Linked DNA regions of Homo sapiens: region 2 is linked to region 1. A link means that fine-mapping ties the variant in region 1 to the expression of a gene that starts in the linked region. Tissue or cell type: blood mononuclear cells. Region 1 holds a variant in brackets; the other region holds the start of a gene. All regions are shown on one strand. Distances are from middle to middle.

What was found. PIP is the estimated chance that this variant, and not a neighbour inherited with it, causes the effect.
Region 2: CAB39 starts here. The variant in region 1 is fine-mapped to the expression of CAB39 in blood mononuclear cells (TOPMed, PIP above 0.99). The same link has a PIP of 0.9 or more in lung.

Annotation. Positions count from the first base shown.
Region 1 is chr2:230,814,925-230,823,106 of GRCh38, reverse strand. CAB39 (calcium binding protein 39) reads right to left here. Exons shown (of 9, transcript NM_016289.4): 8 at 5,210-5,353; 9 at 2,032-4,591. The coding sequence ends at 4,403. Among named protein-coding and RNA genes, the nearest start is that of ITM2C, 46 kb to the left of the region's middle. The variant AAG/G (reference allele first, on the strand shown) is at 4,333.
Region 2 is chr2:230,709,029-230,717,210 of GRCh38, reverse strand. CAB39 (calcium binding protein 39) reads right to left here and starts at 4,369. Exons shown (of 9, transcript NM_016289.4): 1 at 3,981-4,369. It overlaps LOC124907996 (formin-like protein 16), which reads left to right and starts at 3,885. Exons shown (of 4, transcript XM_047446832.1): 1 at 3,885-5,132. The coding sequence starts at 3,885. The coding sequence ends at 4,643. RefSeq lists a silencer at 3,658-4,597.

The DNA of each region.
Region 1 (8,182 bases):
GAACACCAATATTTAGGTGATAATAAATTATTACCAAGGGAAAGGGGCTCTTGTGAGCTAAAGCTCATCTGTAAAACCTGTCAATCTTGTGCAGAATGTTGAAAAAATGTCACTCTTTTCCAGAAATCTCTGGGGTCTGTCTTACTACTGAAGTGCTACCTAGAAAAAATAATAAAAATTTAACAAATTGCAAAGGATGAAATCTTCTGCATAGAAACCAGGGGGTCTGGCTGGGGGTGGTGGCTCATGCCTGTAATCCCAGCACTTTGGGAGGCCGAGGCGGGCAGATCACGAGGTCAGGAGATCGAGACCAGCCTGGCTAACACGGTGAAACCCTGTCTCTATTAAAAAATACAAAAAATTAGCAGGCACCTGTAGTCCCAGCTACTCAGGGGGCTGAGGTAGGAGAATGGTGTGAACCCGAGGTGGAGCTTGCAGTGAGCCGAGATCGCGCCACTGCACTCCAGCCTGGGCGACAGAGCAAGATTCCGTCTCAAAAAAAAAAAATAAAAAAATAAAAAAAGAAAAGAAACCAGGGGGTCACGGTCCTTGGAGATTTAGCTCCCGGCGGACGTGCCCTCAGGTGGAACCTACCCCACCTTCCAGCCACAGTGGGGACGGACACTTGGCTGCCAGTTCTCAGACATGAGCAAGGTTTTAGAGGACACTGTAAGGGCACACACAACATGAAGGCCTCATATAGCTGTGCAGTGACACAGCCTTGTGCAACCACCACCATCCTCTTCAGTCAGCGTGAATGCTGGTGGCAGGATTCCTGGAGGTTCGAAAGCTTAAGATCCTTATTAGGCACTTCTTGGGTCTAAAGTGCTCGGTGGCGGAGGTGTGCTGGTTGACCGCAAGCAGACTGTCAACGGGTGAAAGCGGATGGTATTCGTAGAGAAAAGCTCCAGTGGGTCTTTCTGCAGTACTGAGATTGCTGACTGGGGAGAATCTTACCCTGTCCTTCATGTCTTCTGGAAACCAGATGGTCAGTGAGGACACAGCCATGGCCAGGGAGAAGATTCCTGACACATCCGGGAGTACCTGAAGGGCGGTGTGTGCTGGGCTGCCCGCTCTTCCCCTAAAGGACAACTTTGGCACGTTGGCAGGTGGGCTTTCTCATGACCGTGAGTGGCTCTAACCTCCAGCATGAACAAGGTATTGGGCACTGACTGCAGCCTCAGAGCACTTCCCGATCAGGACCTTGTTGGAGCCTAACTAGGAAGGCTGGGTGAGAACTGCACTACTCCTGAGCTGCCTGAAGTGCAACGTTCTGGAGCTTCTTTGGCAAGGGGAGGAGGGCATTTGATGGGGGATTGTGGTAGGAAGTGGAATTTGAGCTGAAGCGTGAATCCAGTCCTCAGCCTGGTGATCCTTATAAGTGGCCAAGTCACAAGTTATGACTTAATGGGCCCTTGTCACCTTTGGGGAACTACAACGTACAAGTAGACTGAACTACTTGACAGAAATAACAAATAGGACATTGTTATTCGGATGAAGTGTTTTTGGCAAGAGCATGTCCCTTGCCTTCACTCCAGAGAATAAGATTTCATTTACTGACAGGGGTTAAAGTCGAGGGCAGGGCTGTGAACTAAGGATTACGAGGCACCCTGGAAGGCAGACGAGGGACATTCTTTACGGTGCCAGAGTTCTTGTGCCTGCTTCCACGGTCCCCTCGCCTTCATGATCATTTCACATCAGTAACCTGTGAATACTCCGGGCCGAGTGTTCTAGTTTAGCCTCGCGGTGTTGCTAACAGCGCAAGAGAGGATCTACTCCTCAAACGTTAGGGTCTAAGAAATGGTACCATTAAAAGGTGTGATTTTACTCAGGAAGGGTAAGGAAAACATGAGCACGGGGGCGGTGGGGGGGAAGTGAAGCCCCTGAACAGGGAAAAAGGCAGACAGGAATGGGTGTTAACTGTCCCTCCACTTTCAGTTGGTGATAAAATTCGGGCTTGTGTGTCTCCTGATGAAGCTGTTCACAGTAACACAAATGCAACTGTCTATAACACATCATAAAGACAGACAATGCTGTTTCTCCAAAATTTTATTTTAATTTAAATTACAGGGCCAGCCAGATATTCTGATAAGAAATTCACTTTTCCTTAGGAGAAAGAAAATGCTTTCATGGCATTGTTAACAAATGTATACATCTCCACTTTTTTAAGGGTTAAAAATCACATTAAGTAACTGCCTTATGTAAAATTAAACCTTTATAACACAAAAACCACTTCCAGTATAATAGTCTTGGTAATATGAATATATTAAATGATCATAACTTCAAATGCAACATTTCAAACTTAAATGTTTTCACATTGTTTTGCTTAAAAACAAAACCCACGAAGTCTGAACTACCTTCAGATTCCAATGTAAGAGTAACATGAATGTTGTGTCTGACACGCTGCACCCTCACTTCTTCCACCTAAAAGGCTACGACCTCACTGCCAAAGTGGAAGCTGTTCTAGATGTGTAAGTTCTAAGAATGAGCTTGGCAAGAAGACGTTTCTTCCACTTGGTGTAATCCATGTTTTTACACTAACTCCATACACACAGCACTACACCACAAAGCCAGGACACCACATCACGGCCAAGTCTTCCTTCCTAAACATCCAAGAGATTTTTTTTTCAAGGAGACTAGATTGCCTTATTTCACACAGATTCTGGTAAAGACAGTCTTGAGAAATGCCAATTATGATGTAGACTGCCATTTTAATAAAAATAAAATATATCTATATTTTCTGGAGCTATTTTCCTAACTGGTGTTCCTGAAGGTTTAAAACCTGCTGAAACAGCAATTGGGAGGCCCATTTTACTGGCCAGTATATAATTCCATTAGTAAGAGAGGCTAGCAAAGAATAATCATATCAATTTCTTAATCAGCTGCAGCCATGCTGAATTTGAACTGGCAAACTCTGATTTGTCAGTTGTTAGTTGTGATCTTCATATCACTAAAATGAACAGATACCATTCTAATAACTTTACATAGATATAGTCTAGAAGACATTGTTCTGCCGTGGTCACAGTAACAAAAAAGTGGTGCAAAATCAGTTACTTTATAAATACTGATAATTTGCAGCATTAAGGAACAGGACATTAAAAAAAATAAATTTCCCCATAGGACACCTATGACTAGGAAGTCGTCTTTTCCTAAGAGAAGCCAAAGTTTTAATTATTCAGTTCACAACTATTGTACTGGGTTACTTAGTCTAAGAAAGAAAAGGTGCTCTACAGAGATTTCCCACACACACAAAGAATCAGCATTAATTTAGCATAATCTCTATCATTCACAGATCTGGCAGATTCATTAACTCATTTAAAATGAATAAGGCCAATAGGATGCAGGAAGGTGTGGCTGACTGAGCTCCAGGGCTGTATCGCAGCTTATTGATGGCACCCCATTAGGTAACTGAATACAAAGGACTGGTTTACTTTCTTTTTCTTTTAATGCTGTGATACTTAAATGTTAAATCAGCATTTTCATGTGATCTGAAGTATTTCAATTACATATGAGCATTCATTGTTTTTTGCAAAAACTCAGTATTAGGTAATAGTTACATACTACTACAATAACATTCCTCTGCTGTACAAATTAAACCATTTAAAAGAAATGAGCATTCTAAGAATTATATACAAAAGAAACCTTGAAGCAGTGTTGAAATGAAATGCAAGGTGTCATTGCTAGCTCTACTGTTTTAAAGTATCTTTGAAAAGTAAAATTAACAAATACCCTTCAACATATCCAGGTTTACAAGTCTCAAGAAAATCAAATGTCAAAAAATTCTAGAAAGCTGTGAAAAGCATATATACATTTTCCTTATGATCTTATGAGGCTTCTTTACACTTTTAAGAAGTTGCTAAGTTTCAGTATCAATTTATTCGCATGTCAACTTTAGCTGCCCCCAAACTCCCATTTTGGATAGCTCCCCTCTGATTTCAGATAAAGCTCTGCGTCATCTTCCTTCAGCGAAGGTGCGCGACCTGAAGGTGCGCGATCTGACGCAGGGATGCCAGGTGTGCACTTGCCACACTGCACTCAGATCGCCAACAAAGATGGGTGCAAACACATAGGTCTAATCTGATATCAGTGCCCTCTTTCCTAAACCACACTCTCATCCATACATTTGCCTTCATGAACCCAGCCATGTTCAGAACTCCCGTAGCACAGTCTTTGAATTCTGAAATGACACAAAGATCAAGAGAAAGCCCACATGTGCCCTAGTGTGCAAGCAGCAGCAGCTACGATCTCCAACCTGGACTGAAAAACAAAAGGGTAAAATGAAAAACCGTTCACTTAACAGCAGATTAGCAGTAATGTTCCTCATGAATCAAT[AAG/G]AGTGCCTGATGCTGAATAGCTAACAGCAAATGCTGAATTTGGATTTAACATAGATGTTTATTGGAGATTAAGCTTCTTGCTGAGCTGGTCTCTTCAAATCCCTGATCTGTTTAACTAAATAGGTCTTCTCGTCGTTAAACTGCTCATCCTCCGTCCTGTCGTTCTGAAACTTGCTGAGGAACTCTATGAGTTTGGCCTGGTTCTTGAGGAGGATGTCTAGGATGGGCTGCGTCTTGTTAGGATTGGCTACAAACACCTGCGTGGAGAGAAACGCACATGAGGCACAGAGAAAGGACAAAACGCAGCCACACCTGAGCTGCGGCCACAGTGCAGAAAAGCAGAGCTGTGCTCTCCTGGGATGGCGCTGAAGTCAGGGTCATTAGGTTTTGCTTTAGAAGGCGTTATTTTACAATTTGGAAAAAAAAATAATAATTACATGTTTTAACACAAATACGACTGATAAACTCATTCTGCCAGCCCTGCAACACAGTGTTTAGTATTAAATACAGACTTTGATTTTAGAATAAAATGGGCAGAAATTATTTCTCAGCACAAGAGGTCAGATGGGATTTTAAGAATGAAACCTCCACAGAAAGCATTAAGAAATGCTTTTGTTTTGCAGTTACTAATCTTCTAGGCCAAAGATAAATGACACTCTTCTATGAACAAACCTTCTCGTTCCCAGATCCAAACAGTAACCCGTTTCCAGGTCTACCTTTCTGTTTAAAAGTCATAGCACACAAATATGAAAAGTGACTGAATTTAATTAAGTCACCTGGATTACCAGAGTGAGGCTAATAATTTCCGTTATTTGCGAATGAAAGACGACGAACAATTCCAGTGGACAGTATCACTGATGCTTCTAGTACTCTACCTTAAAAACGTGAAAGGCCTCAAACTGGATGTTGCGACTTTTGTCTCGCAGCAGGTTCATCATTAATTTGAGGTTCTCAGGTTTACTGATGTATTTTGTCATAATTGTGAAGTTGTGTCTATCTAGTAGTAGTTCACCGAGAAGCTGAGAAGACATTTAAACAATTACCTTGTTATTAAAACTTAAAGAAAAATCAAAGTTTAAAAAAACAATTTATTTTATAATCATCAAGTATAGAGTATTAGTAGGCACTCAAAAGACCGAAGAACTGAACTGAATTACAACCTAAAAGCTACGAAGGGCCTTCTCTCTGCCACCTGAATGCCTTCCTCCCTTTCCCTGAGAGATGAAGTCTACGGGAGGCCTGACGCTTCTCTCTGCAGAGGATGTTCAAGATGCCCCCTTGGCCCCAGTGGGAGACTCTCAAAGCCTCCCCTTTAAGCGTGCATTTGTGTTAGCTCACTAAAAAGAAACTATTCAAGAAAATGGTCAAAAGTTATTGATTATTCCTGTTAACTAACCACAAACCTTAGCTTAATTTAAAACAACTATTTTTAAATTTTATTTAGCGGGACTTTCCAAGATAAAGGGTTTTGTGTCCAAAGTTTTCCATTTGTGTACCCTGCACATGCCACAGTTATCGTTTTATCACAGCTAATTCAGAAAGGTTTACACAAGTGAGTATTTTTCTGCTCCTTCTTAGGTCTCCTGAAGATAATCCAGTGTTTTCTTACTGACCCCTCACCATCACTAATTATACCAATTAATGCTAAAAAAACATCTGTTTACTTCAAGGGTTTACTAATTTCTGGAGAGTTGGTTATATCATATAAACTCATAACTTTTAAACTGTCACGGCTTACTCTTTCCTAAAACCAGCAGTCACTTCTTCAGGTTGTCAACATGCCAACAACCTGGCCAAGGCTGAGTGTGCAGAGCCGGCAGTGGGGCAGGTGCCAAGCTGCGGTCCTTGTGGGCGGTGGCAGAGCTGTGGAGAGCTTGGTCCCTGGTGCCAGCCTGCCTGGGTTCCAATCCTGGCTCCCTACTTCTTGTGAGCTCTGTAATCTTGAGCACGTTACTGAACTCCTCTGTGTCTCGGTTCCATCATCTGTATAATGGAACAGTGCCTCTCTCTCAGGAGAGTGCAGTGAGAAACGAGCATCAGTGTGCAAAGCACGTATCAGGCCTGTATCTGCAGAGATGTGAGTGAGTGAGGGCTAAGGGAAGAAAAGGCGCAAATAGCGGCTCTGTGGCTTTGCTTTAATTGCTTTTGTTGCTTCCTTTCTGGGTTTCTGGCTATGTTCTAGATACTTGAAGTTTCCAGGTAACTGATCTCTGGATAAGTAACTTGTCATCATATTAAATAAAAAATGAGCTGATGTACAAGAAAACAAATCTATTTTACTTAGGCTTTATAAGGAACTCATAGGAAAAACTGAAAGGAGTAGGCTTCATATCAATGTGAATCACAAAATCTATTCTTACGGTGAGAAGCAACCAGTATCTTACAAAGACTGAAAAGTTAGTATTATGTGATTTATAGCTTTCGTGTTCTTTTTCTATCACAGAAACCAAAGAAAATCTGAAGGAAGATGACTTCAAATATGTAATTCTTTTTTTATTTTTTGAGATAGTCTCACTCTGTCACAAAGGCTGGAGTGCAGTGGCACAATCTTGGCTCACTGCAACCTCCACCTCCCGAGCTCAAGTGATTCTCATGCCTCAGCCTCCCAAGTAGCTGGGACTACAGGCTTGTGCCACCACACCTGGCTAATTAATTTTTGGGGCTAGAGACAGGGTTTCACCATGTTGGCCAGGCTGGTCTTGAACTCCTGACCTCCATCCATCCACCCACCTTGGCCTCCCAAAGTGCTGGGATTACAGGCGTGAGCCACCATACTCAGCCCAAACATGTAATACTTTACTAAAAAACTTGGGAGTCTTGCATAGGGAATATAAATTTGCTGGCGACATAAATATGGGAATAAATAAATGCCAATGTGGCTACGAAAAAGAGAGTACAAATTAAAATCCATCTTTAAAGTACGGCTGGTGCTGAAGCCGCTCCATGTGTTCATGGGGCACTCACAGGCCCACCGCTAACATAAACTGCAGGAGCCAGCAACTTGCTTTATATCCATTCCTAAGGGCTTGGAAATGGTGGTCTCAGCCTTTCTTTTCATGTTGGTAATTCTGAATGGCAGAAGGGTCTTGAAGGCCTTTCTCCTTATCCAAACAGCCCAAGAATCCAACATTTGGTCAAAGTTTATGGATTTGCCAATAACCTCCACCCTGCACCCCCGGCCCCAGCTTCCTCCCACAATGGCCCTAGAAGCTACTAACCTAGGCTATCCTGTCTGGCCTTTGTGGCCTTAGAAGATACTGACTCCAGTGAACTGTGTGCATCTGTATAACTGCTGGCAAGAGTAGTATACCTCAGCCCTTTGAGGATCACAGAGCAGGAGAGGCCCCAGGAACCTCCACTCTCTCACACACTGATGTCCAGGGAGGAGAAACTCCTCCCACAGCTGCCAGGAAGTTCTGTCCAACCCCCCAAAGATGAAAGGACAGCAAATGATCCTCTAAGCCAGGGAAGGTGGGGCCCAAGCAACAGCAATGAATGGAAAGCAAGGGGCCTGGCTGGACTGTGCCTGTTCCCCAGCTGTGGCTGTCACGGATGCCCTGCTGCAGGAATTACAGCCTTACACGGAAAAAAGGCATATGCTGTTCTGAAAGAAAGTGCTGATTGAAAATGTGGACGGTGGAGTGTTCCTATCAAAGGACACAAAGTATTCCAGATGCTCCTAGTGTCCTTTAGTCTTTTCCACAGAAAGATAAGGTCTTCAAGGGAGATTTCCCCACGGTAGGAAGGGGATGAGTGGATGGAATCTTGGTCATTATCGGTCCAGACACCCATGAGGGGAAGAACTCTGGGCAGAGTCAAATTTTAAATGGACCTGGCAAAAAACTGAA
Region 2 (8,182 bases), 110 kb after region 1:
GATTTGATATTTTTTCCCCACAATTTTATCAAAGTGTGTAAAAAAAAATGTTTACCAGTTTTTCTGTTATCCAAATTAATCCACCTTCCACAGTCCCATTTCTGTAACATGTAAAGACGTTCATAAAATCAAATGCCCAATTAAAAGAAGCAATGAAAAAGAGGAAAATGAATTTTTATTTTTATTATTTTTATTTTATATATACATTTTTTGAGATGGGGTATCACTCTGTCACCTCAGGCTGCAATGCAGTGATCAAAATTCACTGAGGCTGCAAATTCCTGGGCTCAGGCAATCCCTCCTGCCTCAGCCTCTTGAGTAGCTAGGACAACAGGCACACACACCACCATGCCCGGCTAATTTTTTATTTTTGTGGATATAGGGTCTTGCTATGTTGCTCAGATCGGCCTCCAACTCTTGGGCTCAAGCAATCCTCCCACCTTGGCCTCCCAAAGCACTGGGATTATAGGAGTGAGCTACCCCGCTCGGCCTGACCTTTTAAAATAGGGCTGGAGGCCAGTGTGGTCAGGCCTATAATCCCAGTGCTTTGGGAGGCTGGGGCAGGAGGATGGCATAAGCCCAGGAGTTCAAGACCAGCCTGGGCAACAGAATGAGACACCATCTCTTTTAATTAAAACATTTTTTAAATTAAAAAATAAAATAGAGCTGGAATAGAAACAATGCCAGAAAGGTAAACAAAAGACAATACCTGAAACAAAATTCGTCCTACTACTGAATTTTATTTTTGGGGGTTGGGGAGGTTGGATTTGTGTATTTTCATGGCAGATGGCTAAACTGTGAGTGATTAGTCATCAATCTGGAAAAAAGGCTCTTGGGAAAGTATGGCAATAACTAAAGAAATCTGTAATCCCACAAAAGTTGATCAAAACAGAAAACTTTAGTAAATATTCCAAGGTAATAAAGACCCTGTGTGGCATACGTATTTGCAATATACAAACATTCAAATAAAATCAAGTTACCAAACCCCATACTTATACTGGACTTTCTTAGCAGTTCTTCTACATTAACTTTAGGAAACGTATACAGCCTTACTCAGCATCTTACTTCATACGTGATGAAACAGAAACAGAGATCTTATTAATACACCTTAGAATGTAAAATACATGGGAAAAAACTGACTTAGTACAAGAACCTGAAGTAGAAAATGCTAATGAAGGGAAGTAAGCTGCCTTGAAATAAAAAAACAGATATCCAGGCAAGCGTGGTGGCTCACGCCTGTAATCCCTGCACTTTGGGAGGACAAGGCGAGATTACTTGAGCCCAGCAGTTCAAGACCAGCCTGGGAAACATGGCAAGACCCTGTCTCTATAAAAATACAAAAATTAGCCGGATGTGATGGTACGAGCCTGTGGTCCCGTCTACAGGAGGCTGAGGTGAGAGGATGGCTTGAGCCCAGGAGGTTGAGGTTGCAGTGAGCCATGTTCGCACCACTGCACTCCGGCCTGAGCGACCGAGTGAGAACCTGTCTCAAAAAACAAAACAAAACCAAAAAGGCAAATACCACCCATTTGTTATAGTAGCAAACCATTTCATGAAATATTCTATGCTTATATCCAGCCTGAGTCTTCGTGATGTCATGTTCAAAAAATAGTTAACCTATATGGATGGCCCTAGTGTAGAGACTATTTTTCAGGAGCGAAGTGGGGAGTGGGAAGGGACACTGCATCGCCGTCTGTGGGGGATGGTATACCAGCCATGACAGTAATCTTTTGACAACATCCCTTTAAAAGTCCATTCACTCCTATAGCAGAGATCTGTGTGCTTTCTTCCTCTTCCACACCTCATGACAACACACATCCTGCCAAGAAAAACTTTATTCAACAAGCAAGAGGATCCAAGTCTTACAGAGAAAGAAACATACTTCAAACAAGAAACTTTCAGAAAAAGTTCTGTCCACACTAGTAGTTATTAAGCCTAACTACTGCATTTCATCTGAGGTAAATAATACAACCTTGTCAGGAAAACATAACATGCTTAGAAGACTTCCATTGTTGAGTAAAAATTTTTTATATGAAGATATTTAATGACAAGAAAAGCTTAATAAGAGATGTGTGTGTGTATACATATGCATACAATATATTTCATTATGCAAAGAAAAAATACACAGAAAAAGACTGGAAAGAAAATACGCAAAAATGTTAGCAGTAACCAAATCTAAGTGGTAAGATTATAGAAAATGTTTTAAAGATTTTCTAGCACTCCCTGAATTTTGGAAGCTTTGACAAAGATCATGTATTATTTTGAAAAGCAGAAAATTTTTAAACTGCAAAAAGGTGGCATTCACTTGTCATACACGCAAACAAGTGCAAGCTTACAAAACTTAGGCCCTAAGCTGCTTTCACAGATCGTATATTCTAGATTTCGAATACAGCTGCTAATTACTTCCTAACAATTTGAACAAACTACAAAATAAAGCTAAACACTTTCACTTCTGGCTCTACTATAAAGATTTCATAATAAAATAAAATATAAAAACAAAGTTTTACCTTTCTGTAAAAGGTCTACGTCTGGCTTTCTACAGCAGAATATTACTAACCATTTTTTAAAAATCATCAATTTATGTTATTTTACACAAATGCCACCTCAAAGAATGTAGGTTTAGCTTAGTAATTCCAAAGTACATACGCCTAATACAAAGTGCAAGAAGTTTTTATGCACTGTAGCGAACGCACAAATAGAAACACCTTCTGTGTGCAGATGAGCTTATTTTATAGACACCTTTCCATTACCTCTTAAGAGCCTGATATCTAATGAAGCTTTCTGCAAAGGTACTTTGCTTAGCCTGGGCATGGATTTACTTGATTATCTGGGAAGCTGTCAAAATCGATCTGAAACTGCATTACATTCAAGGCACAGAATGTCAACTCCTGACTGGGCCTCCTCCTCTCTCCTTTCACAAGAGCGCCTTTAATATCCCCTAGCCTACATTTCCGGGCTCATGAGTCACTGAGAAATGAGCTCTAAGTTTCTCTTAGAATGCTGCTCAAATAGCTCCTCTACAGCATTCAAGGATCTGGCCCCAAAATACCTCTTTAGCCCAATACCCCCCGCCCCCTGCACCATGCCAACAAACGGAATTATCCATGATTTCTAGGCTTTGTCTTCTCGCTTTTGCTACCCCTTCCACACACCTCTTCTGCAATCCTCCTCTCCTAAATCCCATCAGGCCTTCAAGACTCTGCTCAGCATCCCCCGCCCAGGAAGCCTTCCAGGTTTCTGCGAGGCAGAAGTGATCGGTTCGGTTTTTCCGGGTGCCGTTCTAGCACTCCGTCGTTCTTTCACAGGACTTATCACCTCCTTCCCGGTATCGCAGTTATTTGTGTTCTCGTCTTATCTCTCACACCAGAGCCTAAGCTCCTCGGGGGAGGGGACCGGGGCCCGCTTCACCTTTGAATCCCTCCGGTGCGGGCCGACTACGGCGCCTGCACGCAGTCTGCGCTTGGGGTGGTTCCATTGAACTCCAGAACGCTCCGACCGCCCAATTCCTAACCAGAAATCAGTTAGGCATTTTCCTGAATTGGTCACAAAGCTGGTATCTGCCTCCCGACAACAGGAAGTTTACCAGGGGCGGGAGCGAGGCGCTGAAGCCCGGGTGCAGCCGGTGACAGTTGACCCGGCCCGCACTTCCCCGCCCGCCCGACTCCGGCCCGGACCACCACGCGCCGCCAGCCCCGCCAGAGAACCACGGGGGGAGAGGCAGGAGCGCCTGGACTGCAGGCCCCCGGGCGCCCCACGCCGGCGAAGGCAAAGGGAGCGTCTCAGCGAGGGACCGGAGCCGAGCCGGGCGGAGAGGGCAGGCTGGGCCCGGCTGCTCCCGGGGGCTCCGGGGACAAGCTGGGCCGGGGCCGCCGCCACCCAGGAAAATGGAGGCAGCCCCGGGGCCGGTGAGGGCCCAGCGGGGCAGGCGGAAGCCGGGCAGGCGTCCGCACCACGAGCAGGGCCGGCCGGGGGTCACTCACGGGGCTGGGCCGGGCGTTCCCTTCTCTGCCTCCGCGTCGTCGCTGTCCCCGTCCTCGGCCGCCGCCGCTTCGGGCTGCTCGTTCGGTCCCCGCGGAGTGGCTCGGACGCTCGGCCCCTCCGTTGTCTTCCGCCCGCTCCTGCTCCCGGCGACGGGCTCCCGCGGCGGCGGCGGCTGCGCGGGCGGACGGCTGCCCAGGGGCTCCCGCGGCTGCCGCCGCGCTGCTGCGCTCGCTTGGGCTGCGGCTGCTGCTGTGGGGCCCGGCGCCGCCTTAGTCTTCGCCTGTGCCCCCGCCCCGGCGCCTGAAGGCTCTGTGTCTCCCAGGCCGCGCCGCTCCCCGAACCCCTCGCCCCGCTTGCGGCCCGAGCCCGGCTTTGACGTGCGCACTGCGCAGCCGCCGAGGACGCGACGTCGGGCGGTGCCGCAACGCCCCCTTCCGCCTCGGGCGCCCCCGAGCGGCCGGCGGACTCAGGGCGCCGCAAGTAGGCGCGAGGCCCGAGCGGGAGGGGCCGCAGAGAAAAGCAGAAGCCAAGCCCCGCAGTTCCTCTTCCTCCGCCGCAGCTTCCAAGGCGGGGCTCAGCCCTTTCTCCTCCGCCTGAGCGCTCTTACTGCGGGAATCGCACGCCCACTTTCAACGACCACTTCCTCAACTCTTCAAGCTTAATTCTGCGAGAGGCCGGGATCCCACTTTGTGCAGACCGATTCTTACTTTCTTGGAGCAGATCGCTTCATTTTAGCATCCAGGGGGACACAGCATCCAGGGGGACAAGTGCCAGAACGTTCCAGATTAATGGGAATATTCCTATTTAAATCAGCAACCTGGATTTAAGTCCTGCTCCACCATTTGCTATCTATGGGCTGTTTCACGTCCCTGTGCCTGGATTTCCTCACACATTAAAAAAAAAAGTGTGTAATAATATAGTGGTACCAGCCACGGGCTTCTGAGGATGAACGGGACAGTGCATTGCAAAGCTCTGACAACGGAGCCTGGCACATACAAATGCCATATGTGTGTATTTTTGTTTCTTTGTTTTTAATGTGTAACTGAACTACTTTTTAAGCGCCTCCTGTACGTCAGGGATGGGGCAGTGAGCGAAACAGTCCATGCTCCTAGCACAAACAGTTGACAAATAATTGACTAATAAACCTACAGGTATGTATAATACTGGACAATTGGGCCAGGCGCGGTGGCTCACGCCTGTAATCCCAGCACTTTGGGAGGCCGAGGTGGGCGGATCACGAGGTCAGGAGTTCAAGACCAGCCTGGCCAACACCGTGAAACCCCATCTCTACTAAAAATACAAAAAACAATTAGCCGGGCGTGGTGGCGGGCGTCTGTATTCCCAGGTACTTAGGAGGCTGAGGCAGGAGAATCGCTTGAACCCGGGAGGCGGAGGTTACAGTGAGCCGAGATCGCGCCACTGCACTCCAGCCTGGGCGACGCAGCGAGACTATCTCCAAAAAACAAAAACAAAACAAACAAAAAACAACAACAAAAAAACAAATACTGGACAGTTAAAAACACCACTGGGTGAGGAGGGGAGAGAAAGCAGGGTGTTGTTATTTACAGTGTTCATTCAGGGAGCAGCTTCCTGGAGAGAGAGAGCCTGGGAGCTTTCTGTATGGAAAGGCAGAGGGAATAGCAGGACCAAGGCCCTGAGGCGAGAATCTGCTGGCTTGAAAGCGGCCCCAGATAGGGGAAGAGATGAGGAAGAAGTGCGGCCCTACCAACCAAAGTTAGGACTTCCTGTTTTTACTCTCAAGGAGATGGGAAGCAATTTGAAGGGTTGCGAGCAGAGAAAGGACGTGGAATGACATTTCAGGAGGATCCCTGTGGCTGTGGTATGAGGACCAGACTGAAAGCCCTGAGGGTTTCAGCAGGGGGACCAGCGAGAAGCCTGTTGAAATCAGCCAGCCAAAAGATAAGACTGTCCGGCCGGGCGTGGTGGCTCGCACCTGTAACCCCAGCACTTTGGAAGGCCGAAGCAGGGGGATCACCTGAGGTCAGGAGTTCGAGACCAGTCTGACCAGTATGTTGAAACCCCGTCTCTACTACAAATACAAAAATAACCCCAGCTACTTGGGAGGCTGAGGCTGGAGAATTGCTTGAACCCGGGAGGCGGAGGTTGCAGTGAGCCGAAATCGCGCCACTGCACTCCAGCCTGGGCGATAGAGGGAGACTCCATCTCAAAAAAAAAAAAAAAAAAAAAAAAAGATAAGGCTCTGTCCAGGGTGGTGGCAGTAGAAGAGTAAAATGATCACCTGTAGACACGTTTAAAAGGTGGCTCACGCCTGGAATCCCAACACTTTGGGAGTCCAAGGTGGGAGGATCATTTGAGGTCAGTTCGAGATCACCATGCCCAACATGGTGAAACCCTGTCTCTACTAAAAACACAAAAATTAGCTGGGCATGGTGGCGGGCACCTGTAATCCCAGCTATTCGGGAGGCTGAGACAGGAGAATCGCTTGAACCCGGGAGGCAAAGGTTGCAGTAAGGGGAGATTGCAATGAGCCAAGATTGTGCCACTGCACTCCAGCCTGGGCAATAGAGCAGTACTCAGTCTCAATAATAATAATAATAATAAAAGGTGGCTCACGCTTGTAATCCCACCACTTTGGGAGGCAGAGGAGGAAGGATCACTTGAGGCCAGGAGTTGGAGACCAGTCTGGGCAACATAGTGAGACTCCTGTCTCTAGAAAAAAAAATTAGCCAGGCGTGGTAGCATGTGCCTGTAGTCCCAGCTACTCCAGAGGCTGAGGTGGGAGGATCACTTAAGCCTGGAGAGTCGGGGCTACGGTGAGCTGTGACTGTGCCACTGTCACTCCAGCCTGGGCCACAGAGTGAGACCCTGACTCAAGAAAAAAAATAAATAAATAAAGGGTAAAGCTAAAAGGATTTTCCTGATTTCTAATTTTTTTTTTTCTCAAGCAACTGGAAAATACAATTTGGTGATATGGGGAAAATTTAAGCAGAAACAGATGTGAAGGGAGGAACTTGGAAATTTACTTAGGGACATACAAAGTTTGAGCTGCCTGTTGGACACCCAAGTTGGAAGTTGGACTTAAGAGTTCAGAGGAGAAGTCCTGGCGCGGTGGCTCACGCCTGTAATCCTAGCACTTTGGGAGGCTGAGGCAGGCGGATCACCTGTGGTCAGGAGTTGGAGACCAGCCTGACTAACATGGTGAAACCCCGTCTCTAATAAAAATACAAAAATTAGCCGGGTGTGGTGGCGTGCGCCAGTGGTCCGAGCTACTCTGGAGACTGAGGCAGGAGAATTGCTTGAACCTGGGAGGCAGAGGTTGCATTGAGCTGAGATTGCGCCACTGCACTCCAGTCTGGGTGACAGAGCGAGACTCGGCTCAAAAAAAAAAAAAAAAAAAAAAAAAGAAGACTTCAGAGGAGAAGTCTGGGCCACAGACAGAATTTAGGTGGTTCTCAGAGTAGGTAAAACCTCTGAATTCAGTGAGATCCTTTAGGATGTGAGTGTTACTACTAAGCCCAGTCCCCCAACAATGACAGGTCAGGGAATGGTAAGGAACCAGCAAAGAACCCTGAGAGGGAGGAGCCAGTTTGGTAGGAAGAGATCCAGGAAAATCTGGCCAGGTGAGGGGGCTCATGCCTATAATCCTGGCACCTTGAGAGGCAGAGGCAGGTGGATCACTTGAGGCCAGGAGGTCGAAACTAGTCTGGCCAACATGGTGAAACCCCATCTCTACCAAAAATACAAAAATTAGCAGGGCGTGGTGTTGCATGGCTGTAATCCCAGCTATTCCGGAGAGTGAGGCAGGAGAATTGCTTGAACCCAGGAGATGGAGGTTTCAGTGAGCTGAGATCACACCACTGCCGTCCAGCCTGGGTGACAGAGGGAGACTATGTTAAAAAAAAAAAAAAGAAAGAGAAGGAAAGAAGATCTCAGGTGATCCACTCAGGTGATCTCTACTAAATACAAAAAATTAGCCAGGCGTGGTGGCACATGCCTATAATCCCAGCTACTTGGGAGGCTGAGGCAGGAGAATCGCTTGAACCTGGGAGTTGGAAGTTGCAGTGAGCCGAGATTGTGCCGTTGCACTCCAGCCTGGGCAACAAGAGTGAGACTCTGTCTCAAAAAAAAAAAAAAAAAAAAAAAAAAGCCGAGCACGGTAGCTCACGCCTGTAATCCCAGCACTTTGAGAAGCCAAGGCGGGTGGATCACCTGAGGTCGG